Linked DNA regions of Homo sapiens: region 2 is linked to region 1. Evidence: fine-mapped expression QTL. A gene starts in region 1. The other region holds a variant in brackets. All regions are shown on one strand. Distances are from middle to middle.

What was found. PIP is the estimated chance that this variant, and not a neighbour inherited with it, causes the effect.
Region 2: its variant is fine-mapped to the expression of MS4A8 in skeletal muscle (FUSION, PIP 0.95).

The regions. Positions count from the first base shown.
Region 1 is chr11:60,691,098-60,707,631 of GRCh38, reverse strand. It overlaps MS4A8 (membrane spanning 4-domains A8), which reads right to left and starts at 8,020. Exons shown (of 7, transcript NM_031457.2): 1 at 7,857-8,020; 2 at 6,553-6,772; 3 at 4,132-4,254; 4 at 585-644. The coding sequence starts at 6,771. LOC105369321 (a long non-coding RNA gene) reads left to right here and starts at 3,703. Exons shown (of 6, transcript XR_001748240.2): 1 at 3,703-3,893; 2 at 4,578-4,637. RefSeq lists enhancers at 5,975-6,474, 6,475-6,976.
Region 2 is chr11:60,757,437-60,767,178 of GRCh38, reverse strand. MS4A15 (membrane spanning 4-domains A15) reads right to left here. Exons shown (of 7, transcript NM_001098835.2): 2 at 3,221-3,473. The coding sequence starts at 3,445. Among named protein-coding and RNA genes, the nearest start is that of MS4A15, 5.4 kb to the right of the region's middle. RefSeq lists enhancers at 1,720-1,899, 2,627-2,756, 3,837-3,926, 3,957-4,016. The variant C/T (reference allele first, on the strand shown) is at 5,186.

The DNA of each region.
Region 1 (16,534 bases):
AGATCTCATCTGGTTGTAGGGACCTGGTCACCCTTTACCCTTCGTAACCTGATTATGAGACAAATGAAGGTATTTCTTGGTCTGTTGCTAGGGGAGCACAAAGCTTTGTCCATGTTGATTATCAGAGTTCTGTTGGCTGGATTCCTTAGGAAAGCGAGTGACTGAGCCTCCTTCGGCTTCCCCGGAGTCCTCTTCTCTGTACTGGAAGTACTCTTGGCTCCTGGTCTGCTAGAGGGCAGCCCTGGGCCCCTGGGAGCTCTGTGCCTCTCTGTGGCAGGGCTTCTTAGGAAAGCTGTTATCTCTCTCTCTCTCTCTCTCTCTCGCTCTCCATACTCTGATGCCTTAACTAAGGTGACTGTATTGCCCCTTCTCACTTCTGCATCCTCTTGGGACTTTTCCACATGTGACTCCAGGGCCAGGCTCCTGTGGCCAGTCTGTATGAGCGGGAATGTGTGTGAGCACCGTGTGTCTGGTTATAGTAGGTGCAAGGCTGGGGGAGGAATCGTATGTGACCTTATTTTCCCCTTTGTGACACCATTCTATAGGTCTCCAGTTGGAAGAGCTGGTCTCAGAATGTAACTTACCAGGCAATAAGAATATGGCTGATTTTCTGCTGCCACGGAGAGAGATCCTGAAATGATAAACTGGTACAGAACAGAGTGGGTTTAGAAAGAGGTCAGGGGCTAGGGTGCCCTTCCCCAGGCTTCTGTGATTCTGGTCACACACAGTGGGTACCTTTGCTGGAACCATCAGCTCAACATGGGCAACAGAAAAAATGAGCTGTTTTGCACTGCCTGAAAAGGCACTGGGGTGGGATAAATATATATTCTAGGATCCAGCAAACCTGGTTTTAAATTCTGGCTAGAAACTCTTGACCTTGGGTAAGTTATTAACTTCTCTAAGTCTTTATTTCCTCATCTACAAAATGGAAAAATTTATAGCTCTTCCCAAGTGTCATTGTCATGAGACAACTTATGCCCTACATCTGGCATTTAGTATATCTTTACACTTAGTAGATGCTCAAATGTTGGATTATTTCCTTGTATTTTATTTTCCCACAAGTACACCCTATTGTTTTCCAATCTTTATATCAAGATTCAGTTAGGTTTGGGGGCTCTGGAGGGGAGAAGGAAGGGGTTACCAGCGTCTTCTCTGCTGCTTTTAGATAGAAGCCTGACATCAATCCTTGCCTGCCTGCATATCTGGACAAATAACTTTTAGTTACTCAGATAAACATTGTGTCGCTATGATGCTGAACATCAAATACGAGGATGATGATGTCAATTGCGTGCATTTCATCCAACATGGTATTCCGCAGGCACTGTGGCTGATGGGATTGCCTGCCATCATTTGCCCAGTGGGCTAGCAAGAGTGGTATGAGAGGGCATGAGCTATATTTAATAGGAGCTACCATTTGTGGGGCACTATAGAAAATGCTTTTTTAGAAAAGGCTTCATTGACATATAATTCATGTATCATATAATTCACCCATTTAAAGTATATTATGCAATTATTTTTAGTATATTTATAAAGTTGTGCAATCATCACTACAATGTAAGTTAGAACATTTGCAACGGCCCCAAAAGAAGCCACGTACCGACTAGCAACCCATCACCGCCCTCCCCCCAACAGATGAAGTACTTGTTCAACCTCGCCTCATTTAACCACATGGTGGCCCATCAAGCAGTATTACTCTTGCCATTTTATCAATGAGGAGACTGAGGCTTAGAGATTTTGAACAACTCACACAACATCATCCAGCGGAGTTTTCATTGTAAATAAGTGTTTCCACTCTATGGCACATGCATTTGAGAATCAAATCCAGACAGCTTGATTTCAGACTCCATGTTCCTAACCCTCACTCCATACTCCCTCCCACCCACGGCAGATGCATGTGCCATAGAGTGGACATAGTTATTTACAGTGAAAACTTATTCCAGCTGTTTCTGCCTTCCAAGGCCAAGGCCATATTCTCCTATGAGTGGAAAAACAAATCTCAGGCTCACACCCTTCTGTTTATAGAGATTTGATGGGGAGGAAGGGCTGGACTTTTGGTATCCCTCTCAGTCCTTCTGAGGTGCCAGAGGAGATGAGCCTTTGTTTCAGAAGAGGATATTGATGATCTTTGGGAAATAGAAAGACAGTCCTGGGATCAAGAAGGCAGCAAAGAGCACAACTGCCCTGCAGAGCAAAAGGAGGAAGGTCATGAGGGCTGAAGGGACTCAGCAGCCTGGTGGGAGGAGGCGTGGTCAGTGAGGCATTTGAGATGCCAGGACAACTGCCTGCTGCTCACTGGCACTTGGTGGAATCCAGTGCTCCGTGGTAGGCATTGTGTGCTCAATGGTAGGCCTGGGTGGCCGTGATGCTAGCCCTCTCCATAGCCCCACATTCCACGAAGGTCAGAGATACAGGAACAGGTATCTTGTGAGTGGTTGTGGGAGGGAAAGGGGCTGAGTTCTGAGTTTGGGTGTGTGCAGAGCCTCGCTAGAGGAGCCCTGTTCATTTGCAGAACTTGTGTGGCTGTCGGGGATGGAGATAGCTCTAGGCTATTTTATTTAACTCTTATAAGGTAGAGGGACTTGGGCTGGCACCTAGGTTACTCTGGAGTTGTGCCATTTATGAGGAAAGTTGCATTAGTGTCACATGTAGGTGTGTGAGTCAGGAGGAAGACTGTAACAGAAGGGAGAGAAAGGAGAAAGGAAGGTGGAGAGGGGAGGAGAAGGAGAGAGAGAGAGAGTGTGTGTGTGTATGTGTGTGTGTGTGTATGTGTGTTTGTTTGTATGTGTGTGTGTGTATGTGTGTGTGTGTGTGTGTGTGTGGGCAGGGGGACACTGCAAAGGAACCATAAAGGTAATAAACTGATGTGGAAGAAGGACTGTAGTTCTTAACACTTTATGGAGTCACGGATCACTCTGATAATCTGATGAAAGCTATGGACCCTTCCAGAAAAATAATACACATTTAGCATATTAGGTATTTTGCCAAAATGGAGCCCCCAAAGCCCATCTGCAGATCTAGATTGAGTCCCCAGTGCTCAAGCACTCAAACCCTTGCTGTTCTACAGCTGGGAAGCCACTCTTCACCTTTGCTGAGTGTTTTTCTCCTGGAGCTCAGGCTTGTGGGCCTATGTCCAACAATGCCAGGGGCTATTCCCAGTGTATTTTTTACATGTGGATGTTTTCTTTGTGAATTAAGAAAACACATCCCTTTTGGCCGGGTGTGGTGGCTCACACCTGTAATCCCAGCACTTTGGGAGGCTGAGGCAAGTGGATCACCTGAGGTCAGGAGTTTGAGACCAGCCTGGCCAACGTGGTGAAATCTTGTCACTACTAAAAATACAAAAATTAGCCGGGCGTGGTGGTGCGCGTCTGTAATCCCAGCTACTAGGGAGGCTGAGGCAGGAGAATTGCTTGAATCCGGGAGGGGGAGGTTGCGGTGAGCCGAGATTGCACCACTGCGCTCCAGCTTGGGCGACAGAGTGAGACTCCATCTCAAAAAAAAAAAAAAAAAAAAAAGTAAAAAGAAAATACATCCCTTTTGAGGGGATGTCACCTTGCGGGGTTGTAGCTTGATATTATGGGCTGAATTGTGTCCACACCCTCTATCCCCCACCAAATTTCGTAGATTGAAGCCCTAATCTGTAGTGCTCCAGAATCTGACTGTGTTTGGAGATAGGGTTGTTAAAACCGTCATTCAGGTTAAATGAGGTCATCAGGGGGGACCCTAATCCAAAATGACTGGTGTCCTCATAGGAAGAGGAGACTAGGGCACAGGCATGGAGGAAGGCCGTGGAAAGGCTCAGGGAGAAGACGACCTTCTGCAAGCCAAGGAGAGAGACCTTAGGGGAAAACATCTGCTAACATCTCCATCGCAGACTTTCAGCCGCCAGAACTGTGAGATAACAAATTTCTGTTGTTTAAGCCATCCAACCTGTGGTGCTATACTCTGTTGGGCCGGCCCTACCAAACTAATATGCTTGCGGAACGAGGCCAGGGCTGGCTGGTTTCCTATCCCCCACATTTGGGTGGCTGGGAACCTTCTGCAGGGCACAGCTGCACAACTTGGCAAGGTGGCCTTGAGTGCCTTGGCACCTTCTGGGAGCTCATCGGCAGGAGGACTTGAGTTACTCACCCACAAGCCTCCCCAGAAGGGAAAGCCTCCGTAGAATGAAATAGACAGGTATTCCCCTACGAGAACCGTCGCCATGATGGAGCCGAGGCCGATGTGAGCCAGGCCAATGATGATCTGGATGGCCTGTCAGGAGAGCCACAAGCTGAAGTCTTGTTTCTGAGGCTGGGTCCTGCCTCCCCTATGAGCCTCCTTTTAATTTTAATAAATGTTTTATTTTCATGGTCTAAAAAGTAATATGGGAAATACAAAAATGAAATAAAAACTACCTGTAATCTCCCCTCCGCCTGGAGAAAACAACTGTTTACATTTTGGTGTATTCTCCCATTATTCTTTTCAAATATATACCTTGATAGCACAACATGGCCCCCTGAATTTTATTAACTTAATATTTCATCATGAATGTGTCCTCATGGCATTAAGTATTCTTGGAACATATGTTTTTTCAGGGCTGCTCAGATCCCATTATGGATGGTCTGTGGAGTAGTTGAGACAGAGTTATTGGACAGGTAAGATTATTTCTACTTTTTTCTATTATATGTAACATTGTGATAAACATCCTTCTATGTAAATCTTTGCCTTCATCTCTTATTTCTTTAGGATATTGTTATGTGTTAAATTATGCTCCCCTCCCCCAACCCTCCTCCAAATTCATGTGTTGAAATTCTAATGCTGAGTGCCTCAGAATGTGACTCTATTTGAAAACAGAGTTGTTGCAGATATAATCAGCCAAGATGAGGTCACACTGGAGTAGAGTGGGTCTCCAATCCAATATGATTGGTGTCCTTATAAAAAATGCCATGTGGGCCAGGCACAGTGGCTCACACCTGTAATCTCAGCACTTTGGGAAGCTGAGACGGGCGGATCACAGGTCAGGAGTTCAAGACCAGCCTGGCCAACATGGTGAAACCCTGTCTCTACAAAAATACAAAAACTAGCTCGGCATGATGGTGGGTGCCTGTAATCCCAGCTACTTGGGAGGCTGAGGCGGGAGAATCGCTTAAACCCAGGAGGCAGAGGTTGCAGTGAGCCAAGACTGCGCCACTGCGCTCCAGCCTGGGTGACAGAGTGAGACTCTGTCTCAAAAAAACAAAGTTTTCAACTTTATTATGGTGTGAAAGTGACATGAATTCAGTAGAAACCGTATTTGGAGTACCCATACAATCATTCTGCTTTTCATTTTCAGTCCAGTGTTCAGTAAACTACATTAGATATTCAAGAACACTATTAAATAGGCTTTGTGTTAGATGATTTTGCCCAGCTGTAAGCTAACCTAAGTGTTCTGAACTTGTTTAAGGTAGGCGAGGCTAAGCTATGATGTTTGGTAGGCTACATGTATTAAATGTATTTTTTACTTATGATATTTTTAATTTACGATGGGTACACTGGGACATAATCCCATTGTAAATGAAAGAACATCTGTGTATGTTTGTATATTACACACGTGGTAGCAAATACAAATATATTACTTCCTTAAATTCACATAAATGTAAGCAAATTATACACAGTGTCTGCCCCTTACTTTCTTCCATTAACTCCATATCTTGGGGTGTGTCCCTATCATTACACAAAGAGCTTTCTTGTTCTTTTCATAGCTCCACTACATTTTATTCTTTGGATGCACTGACTTAACCAGTATATTACACTGACTTAACCAATATACTGACTTAACCGGTATTATATTGATGGATATTACAATATTTTTGTTATCACAAACCACGCTGCAATGAATAAGCTCATACATATCACAGTTTTTGTGGGCACAGGCATATCTGGAGGATGAAGTTCCAGCAATGGAATTATTGGATATTTTGTAAATTTGGCAGATACAAATTTCCCTCCCTAAGGGTTGTATCAATTTTTGTTCCCATGAGCACTATCTGAGGGTGGAGCTAGGGTTGGAGCTCGGGCAGTCTGCATCCAAATTCATGCCCATCATTCAGCTACACAGTGAAATGGGCCTTTCTTTGTCCAGCGCAGGACAGCCTCTCAGGGGTTGCGGTGACCATTTATGTTGTTGGTTGCCTAACCTGCTTTGTTTCCTGTTGGGCAAATATTTGATTCGATCTTATTGGATTCTGACTCCACCTTGTGGTCTATTTTGGTCTTGCTGGGACCCCTTTCTTCAGAGGCCACAGGGCTGGGCGTGGATCCTGGCAACAGGATCAACCTTCAAGCGTGCTGCTTTTTTGTTGCTTTTCTTTCTCTTTCCGAAAATGCCTAAATCAGAAAATACAAGGTCTGAGCAGAGGCCGCCTGTGATGTTGTGCAGCTGAGCTTTCTAATAGACCTGTGCTTGGCAAGGCGCGATCAACTCAGCCCCACTTGCGGGATGTAGTGTTTGTGTATTTCCCAGGCCTTCCCTTCCCCCTGCCATCACTCCAGCTGTGCAGTCTGTGGCCTGCAAAGGGAAATCTCACTTACCCCCAAGGTTTTGCCTTCTTTCAGAGCTTTCTGCACAGGCTGCCCATTCACATTCGACACCAAACTAGGTGGGTTCCCAGGAACTAGGTGGACTTGCGGCTGGCTGTTTGGATACAGGGGCACGTGAGACATAATTCCTGGGGTCACAGGATAACCATTGTGGGGTGCCACCACCAACACAGAATTGGCCACCGGAACTGCTGAAGTCATCGAATTCATGCTGCCAAGAAATAAATGCGAGAGAATTTTCCCTCACATATGGACTTGTCCTTTAAAAAGGACTTTTGCTTCTTCTAGCTCATTGGAGCATCTTAACCCTCTACAAGTTTATGAATCCCATGTTACAAATAATAGATATCAGTTATAGGGCACTTAAGAGGTGCTTTACAAATACATTTCCTTTCATCCTCTCACCCGCCCAGTTTTACAGATGAGAAAACTAAGACTCAAAGAGGCTAAAGGCTACCAGAGGGCAAGGGGTCCATCTTTTCCATCTTTGTGTCTCTCATAGTGTTTATTTTTTAATTTTTTTTTGAGACAGAGTCTGGCTCTGTCACCCAGGCTGGAGTGCAGTGGTACGATCTTGGCTCACTGCAACCTCCGCCTCCCAGGTTCAAGCAATTCTCCTGCCTCAGCCTCCTGAGTATCTGGGATTACAGGCCCCCGCCACCACACCCAGCTAATTTTTGTATTTTTAGTAGAGATGGGGTTTCCCCCTGTTGGCCAGGCTGGTCTCGAACTCCTGACCTCAGGCGATCCGCTTGCCTCGGCCTCCCAAAGTGCTGGGATTACAGATGTGAACCACCGCACCCGGCCTCTCATAGTGTTTAGAGTGCTGCTTTGCATATGTTAGTACTGGCTGAAAGCAAAAGTTCAGAACTAGAAAATCTCTTGGACAACATTGAGTTCAATTCTCTCATTTTCTGGAAAAGGAAACAGGGTGAGAGAGTGGACAAGAATCCTCCAAGGTCCCAGGTATGTCAATATTAGTTAAATGGAGATTATCCTTCTCAAGGGAAGCCCCATTGCCAAGGCAGTGTCTGTTCATTGGGTGGCTTCCACTGCTCAATTTTCTAGGCTACTTATACATTCTAATGTGGTTTTAAAAATTCTTTTTCTTTTTGTTTCTCCCATCCCCCTCCATGTCCTATCTTTCTCTTTCTTTCTCTTGGAGCAGACTCAATAAAGCTAGTACAATACACTCTGTCTATCCCTCATCCACACTGGTTCGCCGTAAGTCTCACTTGGTAGAAAAACCTTATCACCAACTCCCAGTTACCAACCACCAGATTAAGCAGACTCACCTTGCTCTGCCAGCAGCCACGTATCTCTTGATCCTATTCCTTTTCTTTGCTGTGGGGACCTTGTTTTTTTTCCTGAGAGAATGAATGTACTGGGGCCAGTTGGGTGGTAGGGTTAGAAGGATCCGAAGTCCTCTATTTCCTGGATGCAGGCCAGGTTACATGCTGCTTAGAGCTCAGTTTCATTCGTATTTATTTCCTGTTTTGGTTAATGAGCCAGTTAAATATGGTTTGATTTGACAAGAGTCTATGGTATAATCTCCATGGAGAAGAAAGGGTTGGGCTGGTTGCTCTGGGAGACACAGAAATGAACTGGGCACCCAGGGTGTGCTGTATTTAGCTGTAACATGAGACAGGATGAAATAAACACCACAGAAGAGAGATAAATGTCCCCACAGGAGAACAGAGGAGAAAATGATTTGTTGGACTTGAAGAGATTAGGGAAGACTTCAAACAGAAGGTGGCATATGAAATCAATAAACTGCAGTCCAGAAAGGGATAGAATCACAGCGAGTGAAATGAGACTTGTAATCAACTTAGATCTATTTTCATCCAAGTCAGAGCCAATAGAAAATCAGAAGCCATCCATGGGAGGGCATTCCACATATCTATGACATACATCGTGTGAATTGCACAGTACAAAAACAGCTGCATGTAATAGTCCATGACAGATTTACCGTTGAAGAAGGTGAACAATGAAGAACAAATGAAGTTGATGGGATGGCTAGAACATTGTAAGATGGTCAAAACAAAAAGAACACCGTTGAGGGTATGGAAAGGGAAAAGTCTTGGGGAAGAGAAGGTAGAGATATGTTGGGAATGGCTCACAGTGAAGGACATTGAATGTAAAAAAGATGAAAAGGTAGCTGGAGTCAGACTTCACTTTTTTGTTGTTGTTTGTATTTTTTAGAGACAGGGTCTTGCTCAGGCTGGAGTGCAGTGATAGTTCACTGCAGCCTCAAACTCCCAGGCTCAAGCAATCCACCTGCCTCAGCCTCCTGAATAGCTGGGACTGCAGGCACGCACTACTGTGGCCAGCTAAATCTTAAAATTTTTTGTAGAGACAGGATTTCACTATGCTGCCCAGGCTGGTCTTCAATTCCTGGCCTCAAATGATTCTCCTGCCTCGGCCTCCCAAAGTGCAGGGATTACAGGAGTGAGCCACCATGCCTAACCCAAATTTTACTTCTTTACCCATTTTTTCTATCAGATTCCTGGACCTTTGTCCCTTAATTTTTAAAGAGTTCTTTACATACTAGGGATTTTAGGTCTTTGTCTTTGGTATATTCTCCAATTTTGACAGTGTCTTTTGATTTTGTTTAGGGTGGTTTTCTGTCAAGAAAAATTTTAAAAATTTTTGTAGTAAAATTTATCAGTCTTATCTTTTATTACCTATGCATTTGAGTCATTGTTTGAAAGCCTTTCCTAACACTAAGATTAAACAGGAATTTAGCTGTGTTTTCTTCTAATACTTGTATTGTTTTACTTTTTACATTTTGATTCTTAATACATGTAAAATGTATTTTTTTGTGAATGCTATGAGATGTGGGTCTAATTTTAAATTTTTCCAAAAGTCTACCTGGCTGCCCCAGGGCAATTTATTAAATAGCTCATCTTCTCTTCAGCGGCATTTGAAATGCCACCTTTGTCACAGCCTAAATTTCTATATGCATTTGGTTCTAATTCTGGTCTTTCTTTTACTTTCTATTGGTCTATTTGTCTATTCATGTGTTATTTCAACAATGTTTTAATTATAGAGGCTTTCCAGTGTACTTCAATGTCCTGTAGGGTTAGTCTCCTGTGTAATTTTTCCTTTTTCATTATATTTTATGGCTATTCTTGCATGTTTGTTTTTCCAAATGAACTTTAGCATTTGTCTAACTCTATAAAGTAACTCAATAGCTTTTTGTAAAGACGAATAACATGAACCAAACTGTATTGACAGAAATAATAAGAGGCATCTGAATGAGGACATATAGGTGGCTAAGCCCTAGTGCACGTGGGACATTCAGGACCAGGTTTAACCAGATATTGTAGAAGATGAAATTTGTCACCTTTTAATTGAGTTTATAGAAGTGGTGCCAACTTTCTAGAAGGGACCGGAGACATACAAGGGAGATTATTATTGTCCAAACCTACTTCAGCAAATGCTGTTGATGCAGCATCTATATCCCCTTGATCCACTCTGGAGGTCTTGAGACAGGGTCTTGCTCAAGCTAGAGTACAGTAACGTGATCATAGCTCACTGCAGCCTCAAACTCTGAGCAAACTCTGCAGCAAATGCTGTATTGATGCTGCATCTTCAGCCAGTCTCCACATCTATGGACAACTCCTTTCTTTTCCGAGGATGCATAGGTATGGGGCAGGCCATAGGTGCTGGGAAGTTAATCCCACAAGAATTTTTCCTATCCAGTGTAACGTGCATATGCTGGATAACTACCCTAGCTTCTCTGTCCCCTAAGAGAAATAATTTTGAAGTGTGTTTCAACTGTCTCTTAGAGAGTCTCCAACAGGATTAAGCACCAGTTCCCTATAACAGAACTCATTCATTAATACATAGTCTATTGACTTTCTTCCTTTTTTTGGTATCACTTTTCCATTTTTTTTCACAGTGAGTCTTGGGTCACTTCCCAAGTAAGCACCCAAATCCTTATGTCAGAGCCTTTTGTATTGCTGTGGTATCAATTGTAATGTCTTCATTTTCAATTCTGATTGTGTTTATTTGAATCTTCTCTCCCTTTTATTAGTCTAGCTAGTGGTTTATCAATTTTATCTTTTCAAGGAACAAACTTTTCATTTCGTTGATCCTTTTTATTCTTTTTTCATTTCTGATTTATTTAGTCCTGCCTTGATCTTTTTTTTTTTCTTCTGCCAATTTCGGGTTTGATTTCTCCTTGTTTCTCTACATCCTTGAGATACAATATTAAGCTGTTAATTTGTCATCTTTCTGCTTTTTTTGATGTAGGCATTTAATGCTATAAATTTCCCTCATAGAACTACTTTCACTGTATCCCACAGGTTTTGGTAAGATGTGTTTTTCTTTTCATTTCATAAAAATTTTAAATTTCTGTCTTAATTTCTTCATTGACCCAGTGATTGTTCAGGAGCATGCTGTTTAGTTTCCATGTATTTGTATACTTTCTGAAATTTCTCTTGGTACTGATTTTTACCTTTATTGCATTGTCATCTGAGAAGATAGTTGACATGATTTCAATTTTTAAAAATTTCTTAAGGCTAGTTTTGTGGCCTAACATGTAGTCTATCTTGGGGAATGGTCCATGTGCTGATAAAAATAATGCATATTCTGGGCCAGGCGCAGTGACTCATGCCTGTAAACCCAGCATTTTGGGAGGCCGAGGAGGGTGGATCATCTGAGGTCAGTAGTTCAAGACCAGCCTGACCAACATGCTGAAACCCCGTCTCTACTAAAAACACAAAAAAGTAGCCGGGCATGGTGGTGCATGCCTGTAGTCCCAGCTACTTGGGAGGCTGAGGCAGGAGAATCACTTGAACCCAGGAAGTGGAGGTTGCAGTGAGCCAAGATTGCACCACTGCACAAATACCTGTTAAATCCATTTGGTCTAAAGTCCAATTTAAGGCCAATGTTTCTTTGTTAATTTTTTCTCCCTATGATCTGTCTAGTGCTGCAAGTGGGGTGGTTAAGTCCCCCACTATTATTGTGTTGCTGCCTTTCTCGTCTTTCTCTTTCTTTAGGTGTAGTAATATTTGTGTGTGTTTTTTTAGGTTTGGGGGTACACATGAAGGTTTATTACATAGGTAAACTTATGTCATGGGGGTTCATTGTACAGATTATTTCATCACCCAGGTATTAAGCCCAGTACCCAATAGTTATGTTACTGCTCCTCTTCCTCGTCCTACCCTTCACCCTCAAATAGATCTCAGTGTCTATTGTTCCCTTTGTGTTGATGAGTTTTCATCATTTAGCTCCCACTTATAAGTGAGAACATGTGGTATTTGGTTTTCTGCAGTAATATTTGTTTTGTAAATTTGGGTGCTCCAATGTTGGGTGCATATATATTTAGGATTGTTACATCTTCTTGATCACTTTATCACTATGTAATGCCCTTCTGTGTTCTTTCTTACTGTTTTTGATTTAAAGTCTATTTTATCTGACATAAGGATAACTACTCCTGCTTGCTTTTATTTCTGTTTGCTTGGAATATCTTTTCCACCTCTTTACTTTCAACCTATATGTGTTTTTGTGGGTAAGGTGAGTTTCTTGTAGGCAGCATATACTTGGATTATTTTTTAAACCCATTCTGCCAATCTGCATCTTTTCAGTGGAGCATTTAGTCCATTTACTTTCGGGGTTAATATTGATATGTGAAGCTTTGTTCCTGTCATATTGTTGATCGATTTCAAGTTATAGATTCTTTGTTTCTGTCTTTTTGTCTTTGTGGTTTAGTAAAATTTTGTCATGTTGCCATTTGATTCCTTTCTTTTCCTCCTTTGTGTGATTGTTTTATACAAACTGTAAGTTTTATATTTCCATGGGTTTTAATGATGATGGATATTGACTTTTCATTCACATGTTTAAGACCTCTTTGAGCATTTCCTGTAGGGTGACCATTTGTAGGGGTGACAAATTCCCTCAGTGTTTGCTTGCCTGGAAAGGACTTTATTTATGAAACCTATTTTGGCAGGACACAAAATTCTTGGCTGATAGTTCTTTTGTTCAAGCACTTTGAAAATACCATTCCCTTCTCTTCTGGCCTGTAAGATTTCTGCTGAAAAGTCTGCTGTTAGTCTAATGGAGTTTTCTTTATAGGTGACTAGAAACTTTTGTATTGTTACTGACAAAATTCTTTCTTTCTCATTGACTTTAGACATTCTGAATATAATATTGCCATGGTGAGATCCTTTTTGCAATGTGTTTGCCTGGGTATCACTGGACTTCCTGTATCTTTATGTCTAACTCTCTTGATATTCTTGGGACATTTTTATTGATTATTTCCTCAAATATGTTTTCTAAGCTTTTGTTTTGTTTTGTTTCACTCTGTCACCCAGGTTGGAGTGCAGTGGCACAATCATGGCCCATTGCAACCTCAAACTCCTGGGCTCAAGCAATCCTCCCACCTTAGCCCTTCAAGTAGCTGGGATGACACACATGAGCCACCATGCCTGGCTAATTTAAAAAAAAAAATTTGTAAAGGCAGATTCTTGTTTTCTTGCTTAGGCTAGTCTTGAACTCTTGATCTCAAGCAGTCCTCCCACTTTGGCCTCCCAAATTGCTGGGAGTACAGGCATGAGCCGCTACACCTGGCCATTTCTAAACTTTTGAATCTCTCTACCCCCTTGGGTGTACTGATAATTTGTAAGTTTGGTTGTTTTATATCATCTCAGATATCTTAAAGGCTTTGTTTATCCTTTGTAATTCTTTTTTCCTTATTTTTGTCTGGCTGAATTACTTCAAAAGACATGTCTTCAGGTACTGAGATTTTATTTTCTTTCATTTTCTGAATTGATTTACTGATTTTCTTGTATTAGCTTACATTTTTTTTTGTATTTTTAGTAGAAAGACAGGGTTTCAGTATGGTGCCCAGGCTGGTCTTGAACTCCTGGCCTCATGTGATCTACCTGCCATGGCCTCCCAAAGTGCTGGGATTACAGTGGGATTACAGGCACGAGACACTATGCCTGGCCTGATTTTCAGATATCCTTTGCATCTCATTAAGCTTCTTTAAAAATCAATATTTTAAATTATTTATCTGGCATTTCAAGGGATTCATTTTGTTGGAATCTGTTGCTGGACAATTATGGTCCTTTGATGATATCCCATTTCCCTGCTTTTTCATGCTTCCTGTGTTTTTCCATTGATGTCTTTGCATCTAGTGTAGCAGTTGCTTGTTCCAATTTTTTGAAATTGCTTTGGTAGGGGAATTTTTTTTTTTTTTCTGAGGTTGTGTACGTGTTGTTGATTAAGATACTTCGACTTTGATTTTGCATGCTGGCAGTAGTGTGATCTTTGTTTGACTTCTTTCGCAGTACACAAAGTCAGTGGTCTCTGGGATTGCCTTGGTGACTTATGGTACAGTTAAGGTTGTGGTGACTTTTAGCTGGGGACTTAGATGCCAACTGATGTGGTTTTGGTCTGTGTCCCTGCCCAAATCTCATGTTGAATTGCAATCCCCAGTGTTGGAGGTGGGGCCTGGTGACAGGCGATTGAATCACAGGAGCAGATTTTCCCCTTGGTACTGTGTCACAATAGTGAGTGAGTTTGTGTGATATCTGGTTGTTTAAAAGTGTGGGGCACCCCCCCGCCTCGGTTCTGCTCCTACCATGTAAGATGCCTGTTCCCATGTTGCCTTCTGTCATGAGGAAAAGCTCCCTGAGGCCTCTGCAGAAGCATATGCTGCCATGCTTCCTGTACAGTCCGTGGAACCACCAGGCAATTAAACCTATTTTCTTTTAAATTACCCAGTCTCAGGTCTTTCCTTTCTTTCTTTCTTTCTCTTTCTTTTTCTTTCTTTCTTTCTTTCTTTCTTTCTTTCTTTCTTTCTTTCTTTCTTTCTTTCTTTCTTTCTTTCTTTCTTTCTTTTTCTTTCCTTCTTTCTTTCTTTCTTTCTTTCTTTCTTTCTTTCTTTCTTTCTTTCTTTCCTTTCTCTTTCTTTCTTTCTTTTTTTCTTTCTCTTCCTTCCTTCCTTCCTTTCTCTCTTTCTCTCTTTCTTTCTCTCTCTCCCTCTCTCTCTTTCTTTCTTCTTTTTTTTTTTTAGACAGGGTCTCACTCTGTCACCCAGGCTGGAGTGCAGTGTTGCGATCTCAGCTCACTGCAGCCTCCGCCTTCCAGGTTCAAGTGATTCTCATGCCTCAGCCTCCCAAGTAGCTGGAATTACAGGTGTGCACCACCACACCCATCTAATTTTTGTATTTTAGTAGAGACAGGGTTTCACCATGTTGTCCAGGCTGGTCTCAAACTCCTGGCCTCAAGTGATCTGTCTGCCTCACCCTCCCAAATACTGTGCCTGGCCATCAGGTATTTCTCTATAGCAGTGTGAGAACAAACTAATACACCAACTGAGCCAGTCTTTGGGCCCGAGTAGTGGCAGCATTGGGGTGAGCGAGCCTGTTTTAAGGCTCCAGAGTGGCTTATACTGGCCCTTGTGTTAGCGGTCCTAGAGGGCTCATTCTTGGGCCTCCAAGCTGCTTGCTTAGAAGTGGGCAGTGGGAGCAGTGGGCCTGGTGTGTGGGTGGAGTCTCAGGCCCCTGGGAAGCTGGCGTGGTGTGGCAGTAGCAGTGGTGGAGGAAACCACAGTGACCCATGCCATCTGTGTTGGTGTTGCTGGAAGCTGCAATGGATTGGGTGGGTTACTCCCTGGTCCCACAGCTGCCTTTAGCAGGGCAGTGGGTATTGTTCTAAGTGTGCTTTGGAGACCTTGGTCTTCCTTGTCTCTCTCTCAGTTGGGTGGCGACTGCTGTTGTGTCACCTTGACCTTGGCCCAAGGGTGGGGCACAGCTTAGTGTTAAACTCTCAAAATAGTGCCAGCTGTGGGCTTGTGACCAGAGAGGGTCAGGCCCTTCTCAGGCGAACAGTATGGGCAAGACTCTGTGAGAAGTGTGGTTCGCTTGAGTGTTGGTCTTGCAGCAGCCTATGGCAGGGCATTGAATATTGTCCTAGGTATGCGTCGGAAAGCCTGGCTGCCCTATCCCTCCTTGACTGGGCAGTAGTTGCAGCCATGTCAACTTGAATTTGGCCTGACCGTGGGGCATAGCCCAGCATTAAACTCTCAAAATGGCACCTTAGGCCTGTGGCCAGGGAGGGTGGGGTCCCTCCTAGGCAAGAAGCATATGTAAGAAGCTGTGGGGAGTGTCATCCCCTCACGTCTCAGTCTCACAGCAGCCTGTTGCAGATCAGTGGGTATTGTCCTATATTTGCATGAGATAGCCTGGTTTCCCCGTCACTCCTTGGCTAGGCAGCAGCTGTAATTGTGTTAGTTTGACCTCAGCCCAAGGGCAGGGCACAGTCCAGCACTCAACTCTTAAGATGGTGCCTTGGGGTTTAGACCAGAGACGGTGGGGCATCTCCCAGGCAAGCAGTGTGAGCAAGAAGCTGTGGGGAACGTGGCTCATTTATGTCTCAGTCTCAACTGCAGCCCATAGCAGGGCGGCAGGTACCCTCTCATTGGTGCATGGGAGCACCTGTTCTTCCCTCTCCCTCCTTGGAGCTGCTCAGTGGCAGCAGCTGTGTCTGTAGATACCCGGTATCCAGGCTCTCAAAATGGCTCCCAGCTGAGGCTGCTCTGGGTGCTGAAGCTTGTGGGATTCTGTGTGGGTTCCCTTTCTGGGGCAACATCTCTGTGCAATCTTTAGGAAGCTCCATATGCCAGGCCTGATGCTGTCGTGAATCCACTACAGGGTTTCTCCCATAGCCAAGATCATAAAAGCCCATTTTGGAGTTCTAGGGGTTTCTCTCTTCCTGTTTCCCTAGGTCCAGGAGCCTCTCTTGGCTCTTGGTCAGTTCCTGGCTGGGCAAGCTTCCTCACACCATGTCCTTTCTTACTGCTGGTGTTTCTCGTCTGTTCTCTGCTGTATCCAAGTGTTCTTTCCTAGATGATCTGTTCAAAATGTGAGGATCTGGGTACTATTCTCTTTCCTCTCCTTGGAGGAGGCACACCAGCAATTACATTTTTGCAGATCATCTTGCATCCTGATTTTAGGCTTTG
Region 2 (9,742 bases), 63 kb before region 1:
CCTCATCTCCCACCACCCTGTCAATCTGCAGCGTCCATCACACAATTTCCGTGTCCATCACTGATCGTCCCAGCCCTGTGCAGCAGCTGCCTCTCAGCCTGCTGAAATCTCCAGTGGGATTTTTTCTCTTTCTAAGAGTTGGTTTACCAGCACCCTACTAGTCTATGCCCAGAAGTGGGATGGTTTTCCCAAGTGTGAGCTTCTAGTAAGGTCTGCCAAATAGCAGAAACATTGCAACGTTTTGGGTAACTATTGAATTCCGGAACTGAGTGGAAAGAGATGTTGAAGACCGCTGGAATCCAGCCCTGGGAGCCCAGGAGCCACTTCCGGCTCCGTGACTTTCACGGGGACTCCAGTGACCAGTACTCACCACTACCCAAACCAGCATGGTCCTTTTATGGGCAGTTCTGACTGGGAACAACTAGAATTGTCATGTCAGCATCACGTGGAATATATATTTCTTTCTAACATGAGTGCCAAGTATTTGGATATTCATGGACATGAGCCCCTGAATCTTCAGCTTCTTTTTCTCTTCAGCTACACGTCTTTCATCTTTTCAGTGTCCTCACAGGGCACAGCATGGCATGGTGTCCAAGTCGCCAGCGTTGCTCCCCTTCCTTAGATCTTTCCCCTGTGGATAGACCACCACAGCTACTGCCATTATGCCTTGGGAAACACCAGCTGCCGCTTATTGAATGCCTGTCTATGCTAAGCACTGTGCTGGGGGTTTTACAGATGTGGTCTCATTTAATCCTAATGAGAAGAGGTAGGTTATTACTATTATTATTATTATTTTTGAGAAGGAGTTTCACTCTTGTTGCCCAGGCTGGAGTGCAATGGCACCATCTCAGCTCACTGCAAACTCTGCCTCCCAGGTTTAGGTGATTCTCCTGCCTCAGCCTCCTGAGTAATGGGGATTACAGGTGCCTGCCACCACACCTGGCTAATTTTTGTACTTTTAGTACAAACGGGGTTTCGCCATGTTGGCCAGGCTGGTCTCGAACTCCTGACCTCAGGTGATCCACCCATCTTGGCCTCCCACAGTGCTGGGATTACAGGCGTGGGCCACTGCGCCTGGCCAGAGGTAGGTTATTATTATCCTAATTTTGGAGATGAGGAAACTGAAGGTCAGAGATGTTCAGTAACTTGCCCGAAGTGTCCCAGCTATGAGGCGGCAGGCCAGCTAAGTCTGCAGTGGTATTCTTAGCGGGTGGCATTCCATAACTCTTATTTGTATTTTCCACTTTTTTGTGCTTTTCAGCAGTTTGTTTGTCTCATCAATTTTTTTTTTTTTTTTGGAGGGGGAGAGCTCTGGTTCCCAGGGTCCGCTTTGAGGCTTCGAAATTCCAGCCGCTGTCTCCATGGGCCACAAGTCAGTGGCTGTGTGGCCCTTGGTGTCTGTGCCCCCAGTCCAGTCCCCCTCTGCACCAATGGATGTGGTGCAGCTATTAGGATAGAATTCCAGCATGATTGAGCCAGAGGTCCTGGACGCCACAAAGCAGAGGGGTTGAAAGTAGAACTTTAGGGTCAGCCATCCCTAGTTTACAGGATGCCATTTATCAGCTGTGTGGCCTTAGGCAAATGACTTAGTCTTAAGAAACCTCAGTTTCGTAATCTGTCCAACAGGAACGATGATCCCCTTCTTACAAGGTGGTGCTGAGAATCTAGTGAGATGATGCATGCAAAGTCCCCGGCACAGTACGTGCACCTCTCAGAGATGCTTCATAAGTAAGAGCTGTCATCATCTTCACCTTCATCATCATCACCATTGCTTAATCTATGCTTTCATCTTCTACTTGGAGAAACTGAGGCCAAGGAACATACTGAAGAATCTACATATGTGTGTATATAATTAAAATAGCAGGTGGCCATTAGCCTGTCTCCATAATTTGAGTTCCTACATAACAAACTGCAACCCAACCAGTACAGAAACACACTGAAACCTAACCTAGGAGTATATTTTTGTAACAGATAGCTGGGTTTCAGCTAATGACAAACAGCTTCAGCCAACTGATCAGACTATGCCCAAATAAGGCAAATGCCTCATGACATCATGCCCAAATAAGGCAGACACCTAGCTGCAGCTGATCGGGAGATTTCTCTACTTCACTTCTGTGTTTGGCCTATAAGAGCTTACTGCTCACACAGCTGGATGGAGCTCTCTGAACCTCTTCTGGTTTTGAGTGCTGCCAGATTCCTGAATTATTCTTAGCTCACATAAACTCTGCTAAATTTAATTTGTTTAAAGCTTTTCTTTTTCTTTTTTTTTTTAAATGGGGTCTCACACTGTCACCCAGGCTGGAGTGCAGTGGCATGATCGCAGCTCACTGCAACCTCCACCTCCCGGGTTCAAGCAATTCTCCTGCCTCAGCCTCCCGAGTAGCTGGGACTACAGGCACACGGCTCCACACCCAGCTAATTTTTGTATTTCTAGTAGAGACGGGGTTTCACCATGTTGGCCAGGTTGGTCTTGATCTCCTGACTTCATGATCTGCCTGCCTCGGCCTCCCAAAGTGCTGGGATTACAGGCGTAAGCCACCTCACCTGGCCTAAAGCTTTTCTTTTTAACGCTACATGTATACACACACACGTGCAAATGTGTGTATGTATCTTTCTATCTCTACCTAATATTTTATGACTTCAGTATTTTATTGAGACCAATAGCTCAAGGCCATCTGAGATTGAAATCCTTCATGTGCCTTCAGCTCTATCAGGGCTGACTTTCATCTATCACTTTCATTCCATCTCACCTCCCCCTTTCCTTTGCTCATTACATTCCAGCTATGGCGAGCTTCCACCTCTTCCTTTAACAGCCACACTCATTCCCAAGGCCTTTGCACTCTACCTGGTGAGCCCTCCCTCTCCAGCCCTTCCACTAGCTATTCCCTTGGCTGGCTTCAATCTAACAGCCAGGTTTGGGCTTAAATGTCATCTCCCCAGAGACAAGTTTCCACCTACCCTCGCTAGTATTCCCCTTAGCCCTAGTCATCATTTTCAACCTTACTTTTCTCTTTGGAGGTTTCTGAGTCATTTGTTTACTGGTTTACTCTCTGTGAACTTTATGCGGGAAGGGTGCTTGTCTACCTGGTGCATGGCTGAATCTTTGAGTCATTACTACATATTTGTTAACTGCCTTCTCCCCTCTCCAAAACATGCATGAATGTTCCGGTGCTGGGATACTCACTACCTGCCTCAGGTTGTGCAGAGAGGCTGTTCTTACCCCCAAAACTTTGGGCTCTCCTGTCAGGAATGTCTCCACGGGCCGCAAGTCAGGTGGCTGTGTGGCCCTTGGTGTCTGTGCCCCCAGCGGTGGCTCCTCAAACTGCATAATCCCTGGAGGTTGGCACATGGATGTGGGCAGAATGGCCGGAGGTGGGCAGAGGCCACTGGCGTTGTTTGGCGGGATGACAACAAACACTCCATTGCTGGCGGGAGCTGCAGACATCGTGCTCAGAGAGCCTGGGAAACAAAGGCTTGGGAGATAATAATGGCAATGATGATTGTCACCCATGTGCATAAAGCTTTTTAGTTGATAAGCAACGTGCCTACTTCCCTTGCTTACTGCAGCCCTGCCAGTATGGCCCCAAACGCTCTCATCAAAGCTGGGGAAGCTGAGACTCAGAGAAGCGAAAGATGTCTGAGGTCAAGGGCCTGTAGGTGGGGTAAGACTGAGATTTGAATTCTAGTCTCTCTGGTTTCAGAGGCCTTGCTCTTAATCTCTGAGCTATATTATGTGGAAAGCTCCTTTTGGAGGAGTGTTTATTTAAATGCCCTTCTTTTCCCAGAAAGGGCAAGTGACTTACCTAAGGACACACAGCTAGTGCAAGGTAGAGCTTAGCTAGAGTACCGGTTTCTTCACCCCGAGACCAGGACTCACTGCCACTTCCTGCCTCTCAGCTCTCAACTATTGAGCTAGCGTCAATAATTCCCCTGGGTATGGGAACTTCCCACCTGCTGTGGGAAGCTTTCTATTTGGCCACCCAAGCAATTACCATTGATGTAGCCAAGAAATGTGTAGATATGGAAACTTTATGCAGAGTTTATAGCTTGCAGTGAATGCCAAGAATGAGTTCTTAGACAATTCCAGCTGAGTGGGCCTCGAGCGGGGGTGGCGGGGAGCTCTTCTGAGAGAGTCCACCCCAGCATCTGTCCGCCAAGTATTTATTGAAAGAGCTTGTTAAACCACAAACATCCACTAGATGGCTTTTTGAGGGTCATGAGACACCTATGACCTTATAAAAGCTCTCAAACCACCTTCTTAGGAGGCTGTTTTCAGCGTTCCTTATTACACACCTCAATCCTTGTCCTGTTTTTAGGGTCAAGGAGTTACATTCTCATGCATAAATAACATACACAGAGTGCCTCAGTATTTTTCCATGCCCCAACCTCAAATGCCATGTACATAAGCTTGGATATGTTGCCGTGCACCCTCAACATCTCCCCCTTCTTTAATTTTTAGAGTATGTTGGTTATTTAAAGCGAGGTAAGCTTTTATTGCTTTTTCTTGGTTATAGATGCACTGAGTGACAGCACAGAGCCATTTGTACATACCTAGCAAACAAATACAAAAAAGAATAAGTATATTGGCCATTACCCAAATGTGTATGTTTAACCCAGATAACTAAGTGTTTGGGTTTAACTATTGAAAGCCTTTTTATAATTGTTGAAGGGTATTTGTTTATAATTGCTGTGACCATTTTTTAAGTTGTTTTTTAAATTTACACTTAAGAGTGGGAATTTGAGAAGACTAATGATTGTGATAAGCCCCTTGCAGGTGTGTTTTCACTCTCTCCCAAGCATATTGGGAGCTATTATATGGCAGAGGTGTGACATAGATAGAATTATATTGCCAATTACAATATAAATGTTGATGGGTAATGAATGCCAGCTGCTGATCCCCCAGCCATTCAACTGCAGCTTTAAGAGCCTCCAGGTGAGACAGAGTAGTTTGATTAATATTTACCTGTTTTTGAAATTTATGGGTTACATTATATACCATGTGGTTCACCACTGAAGCTGTGTGAATAGATTTTGTTAGAAAAAGCAGCTGCAGTAGCAGCAGTTGCTAATATAATAATAGCTGAGACTAAAAAAGCAATTAAAGTGGCCAGAAATCTTTTTTTCTGAGTATGAGACAGTGCTTTTCTAAACAGCTGCAGGGTTGAATCTCCTTCCCAGCTCCAGG[C/T]TAAATTTACAGGCAGCCAAAATTCTGCACGCCATTTTAAGATCATGACATAGGTTATATTTAACTATGTAACATTTCGATGAGACAGGCATGTAGCATACTAACTACTGGAAGAGACTTTACTACTATAAAAGGATTGATTCTGCTCTATATTAGGAACACTTTGCCCAAACAAAAGTATATAAGAGTGCGTAGTACAAATCACAACTATGTCAGTAACATTATTATGGAAACAGAGGGTATAATTGCCACTGCTAGTAATATACTCATCATGTGAAAGAACCCATTCAAAAAAAGGAAGTTCTAATCTCCAAATTTGGGTATGAGCAGGGCTTAAAGCTTGTTTCCCTTTTAGTTGTAATATTGGTCCTGAAAGCCTGTACTCTGACCAGGTGATAGACTTACTGGGGACTCCCAGATCCAATAGTCTGATTTGCAGACATAAGATAACCATGGGGACTCCAATCAAGTAAGGTGCCATTATCAAACAGAGGCCCTTGACATGGCGCAGGCTGTCTGGATGGAGACCACTGAATGGCCTCAAACTTATATCCCCAGTCCCTACTCAGACGGCATATAGGAAGATCAGGCACTTGTGTAGCTTCATTAGAGACCTCAGTAAGATTAGTGGTAATAGCAGAAATAAAGGTCAAGTTTGCAAGCTTAGCATCCCTTTTACACTGATAGTAAAGATACTCCTGAAGAATAAGAGTAACACACTTAGCATGTGCTATTGTGGAAAAACAAAGAGGGGGATTACTAGACAATACAACCAAGGAGTTATTAAGTTTAATCCATCCCAAATTTTCCACTGAAGGGTAAGACAGGGGCATCCATCGACCTCTCGTCCAAGAAGTATCATTAGATGACAAAGGCAGGTCAGCATCCCACCATGAAATAACATTAAAAACAGGGGGATTTAGAACATGACTCCAGTAAACATGTTCTTGAGGTGATCCCACTTGGCAAAGGACAAGAATTACCAGCCACCCCAACATCTATGTCGTCTTACTTTCTCAGAAGTTTTCCCAATTACCCCCAGATACATAAGAAACTGATTCTCTGCAGTTACAGAGGCTTCTATGCCTGCAAGCCGGATAGTTGCCTGTTGATCCAATTTCTTTAGCTGTCCCCAGGTAATGTCAGGTGCCTTCTGAGTCATCACCGTCATTGTCAGTCGATTCTCCAATGACAGGTCCTGTTCTCGAGAAGAGGGCCCGATATTCCCCCTTTTTTGTTTATTAAGATATACTTTACGAGTTTGATGAGCTTGTTTAATAATGGCCTGACTGGTTGAGTTACAGAGAATCCCAGTCTTGGGTTGTATGTTGATCTTATTGCCAAAGTTGCAATGCATAGCCAAAGTGAGCACTAAGATAGCAGGGGCCATTATCAGTTTTACAGTTTGTGGAAGGCCTGGAGTCATAATAGATTCAAACAAATGAGCAACTGCATCTTTAGTTTTTTCTCCGGCATGGGGATAGCATGTATTAGGTCTATATAAGTGTCCACAGTAACATGGAGAGATTTAAAACGTCCAAAGGGTGGATACTGAGTAACATCAGTTTGCCAGATAGCATTAGGCACCAGACCTCGTGGGTTGGCACCAAGTCCTAAGGAAAAAGGGGAAAGAGAATGCCATTGGCAATCAGGATAAGTTTTAATAATCATGTGAGCTTGAGCAAGTGTTAAATGAAACTGTTGTTTAAGACTGCAGGCGTTCTGATGGAAAAAAAGCATGATCAGCTTGAATTCGCAAAAAAGCAGGAGAGTCTGCAAACCACATCTGTGTGTGTACCAGAGCATTAGCTCGAGCGTTCCCTTCTGATAAGGGACCAGGTAGCCCAGAATGAGAGTGAATATGTGTGATGTAAAGAGGGTGATGATCGAAGGGGGCTTGCCCCTCCACACCTGTGGGTATTTCTCGTCAGGTGGAGACAAGAGACTGAGAAAAGAAATAAGACACAAAGTACAGAGAAAGAACGGTGGGCCCAGGGGTCCGGCACACTCAGCATGCGAGGAACTGCACCGGCGCCGGTCTCCGAGTTCCCTCAGGGTTTATTGATTACTATTTTCACTATCTTGGCATGGGGGGTGCGGCAGAAGAACAGGGTGAACAGGGTGATGGTGGGGAGAAGGTCAGCAGGAAAACATGTGAGTAAGGGAATCTGCATCATAAATAAGTTCAAGGGAAGGTACTGTGCCCAGATGTGCACGTAGGCTAGATTTATGTTTCTCTTTACCCAAACATCTCAGTTAGTAAAGAGTAACAGAGCAGTATTGCTGCCAGCATATCTCGCCTCCAGCCACAGGGCAGTTTTCTCCTATCTCAGAATAGAACGAATAGTCGGCTTTACACCGAGACATTCCATTCCCAGGGACATGTGGGAAACAGAGGACTTCCTCTTATCTCAACCACAAAGAGGCCTTCCTCTTTTACTAATCCTCCTCAGCACAGACCCTTTACGGGTGTCGGGCTAGGGGATGGTAAGGTCTTTCCAATCCCACGAGGCCATATCTCGGGCTGTCTCAGTCGGGGGAAACCTTGGACAACACCCAGGCTTTCTTGGGCAGAGGTCCCTGCGGCTTTCCGCAGTGCATCGTGTCCCTGGTTAATAGAGAATGGAGAATGGCGATGACTTTTACCAAGCATACTGTCTGCAAACATATAGTTAACAAGGCACATCCTGCATACCCCTAAATCCCTTAAACCTTGATTCAGTACAGCACATGTTTCTGTGAGCACAGGGTTGGGGCTAAAGTTACAGGTTAACAGCGTCTCAAAGCATAACAATTTTTCTTTGTACAGATCAAAATGGAGTTTCTTTTGTCTTCCTTTTCTACATAGGCACAGTAACAGTCTGATCTCTCTTTCTTTTCCCCACAATGATGGTCACAGAGGAGCTCTTACGCTGCAAGAAACAAAGCTAGTAGGGGTTCATTAGTAATGCCCTTCACATGTGCAAGATCTAAATGAGTAATACTACACACCGCATAAGCGGAATCACTAACTATGTTTATGTCTTGGTGAGGAAAAGTTTGTAAGGCCAATATCAGGGCACCTAACTCTGCCTGTTGCGTGGTTTTAAAATGTTCCTGGATTTTGTGCTGCCATTTTTGCATGGCCTATTGCCACACTGTAGCTGCTCTTCCAGTTTTTCCTAAACCATCTGTAAAGACAGTAGTGGCATGAAGCAAGGGCTCAGAAACAACAATAGATACAAATTTAACAGGCACAGTTTGTAAAAAGTTCAGGAGCTTAGAGGCTGGTAAATGAAAGCTGATATTACCAATAAAGTCAGCTATTGCGATTTGCCAATCAAGAGCACAAGCTAGAAGAGTATGAAATTGTTTTTTGCTTAAAGGTAGGAAAACAGTAGCAGGGTTATTTTTGCCATATGCCTGGTTAGGTCACAATTACAATATGTGGTTCCGGTCATTATTGCAGCAAAAGTTTGAGTCAGATGAGTTGTAGTGCCTATATTTTGGCATGCTTTAATAAACACACTGATTTCAGTGGCAGTGGCTTAGACTGGAGTTATTGCTGTCTGACAATCCTTATTTGCTTTTTCAAAAGCCAATTGTAACATAAGAAGTTTGGTAGCCTTAGGATGGGATACCTGTTTTTCAATTGCAGCTTGCAGTCGGTTGATAAATTTAATGTATGTTTCTGTGGCACCTTGTTTAACTGTTATAAAGGAACCCTGGGATTGTCTTACGGGATTTTTTTTTTTTATGTTTGTATTGCTAGCTGTGAGCATTGAGGAAATAGATGGCCACCTGCTTGACCCTGAGTCTGAGCTGAAGCAAAAGGCCCTGTTCCCAATAGCATATCAAGTTGTATCGGGATATTATTATCCAAATTTTGCAAGGACTGCTGCATGGCTAAATCACTGTACTCACTCCACCACACAGTATATTCTGCAGCTGAAACCAAAACATTTACCAAAGTTTTCCAATCATGTGGAGTCATCTTATAGCCATTTCCCAGAGCCTCAATCACCTCCTTCGTAAACGGTGAATGTACACTGTTTTCACGGATACTTTTCTTTAACTCTTTAAAGACAGTAAAAGGCAAACTCTCATGCCATCTCCTGTTGCTTTGAACAATAACAGGGAATGCGCCAAAAAGCGCCTCAGAGTCTCCCTTCCTAAGTCCCTCTTGGAGGCACCCCTCTACTAAGAAAGTTTGACGAGGAGTTGGCGTTGAGGACACGGCCACCCGATCATATAGATATTCACTGACTGGAGGTCTTATCCAAGAACCATCTCTTGGGCGGCCTCCAGACTCCTCAAGGGGGATGGGAGGCGCCATTGCCTGAACGGGGCCAACGAATACAGGTCCCTTTAAGGGTGGAGGAAAAGAGGGCAATGGCTTTTCTATAGGGGGAGGAAAAGGCTCCGGTCCGTCCTCATGATCACTAGAAAAAAATATCCTCCTTATGCCCTACAGAAGGGAATGAAGTAGAGAGAGGACCCCCCGCCCGCCTCCCGCTGTCCTGGTTGGCTCCTGTTCTTCCTTCTCCTTTAAACCTCCTGAATTCCCTTCAGGCAAAG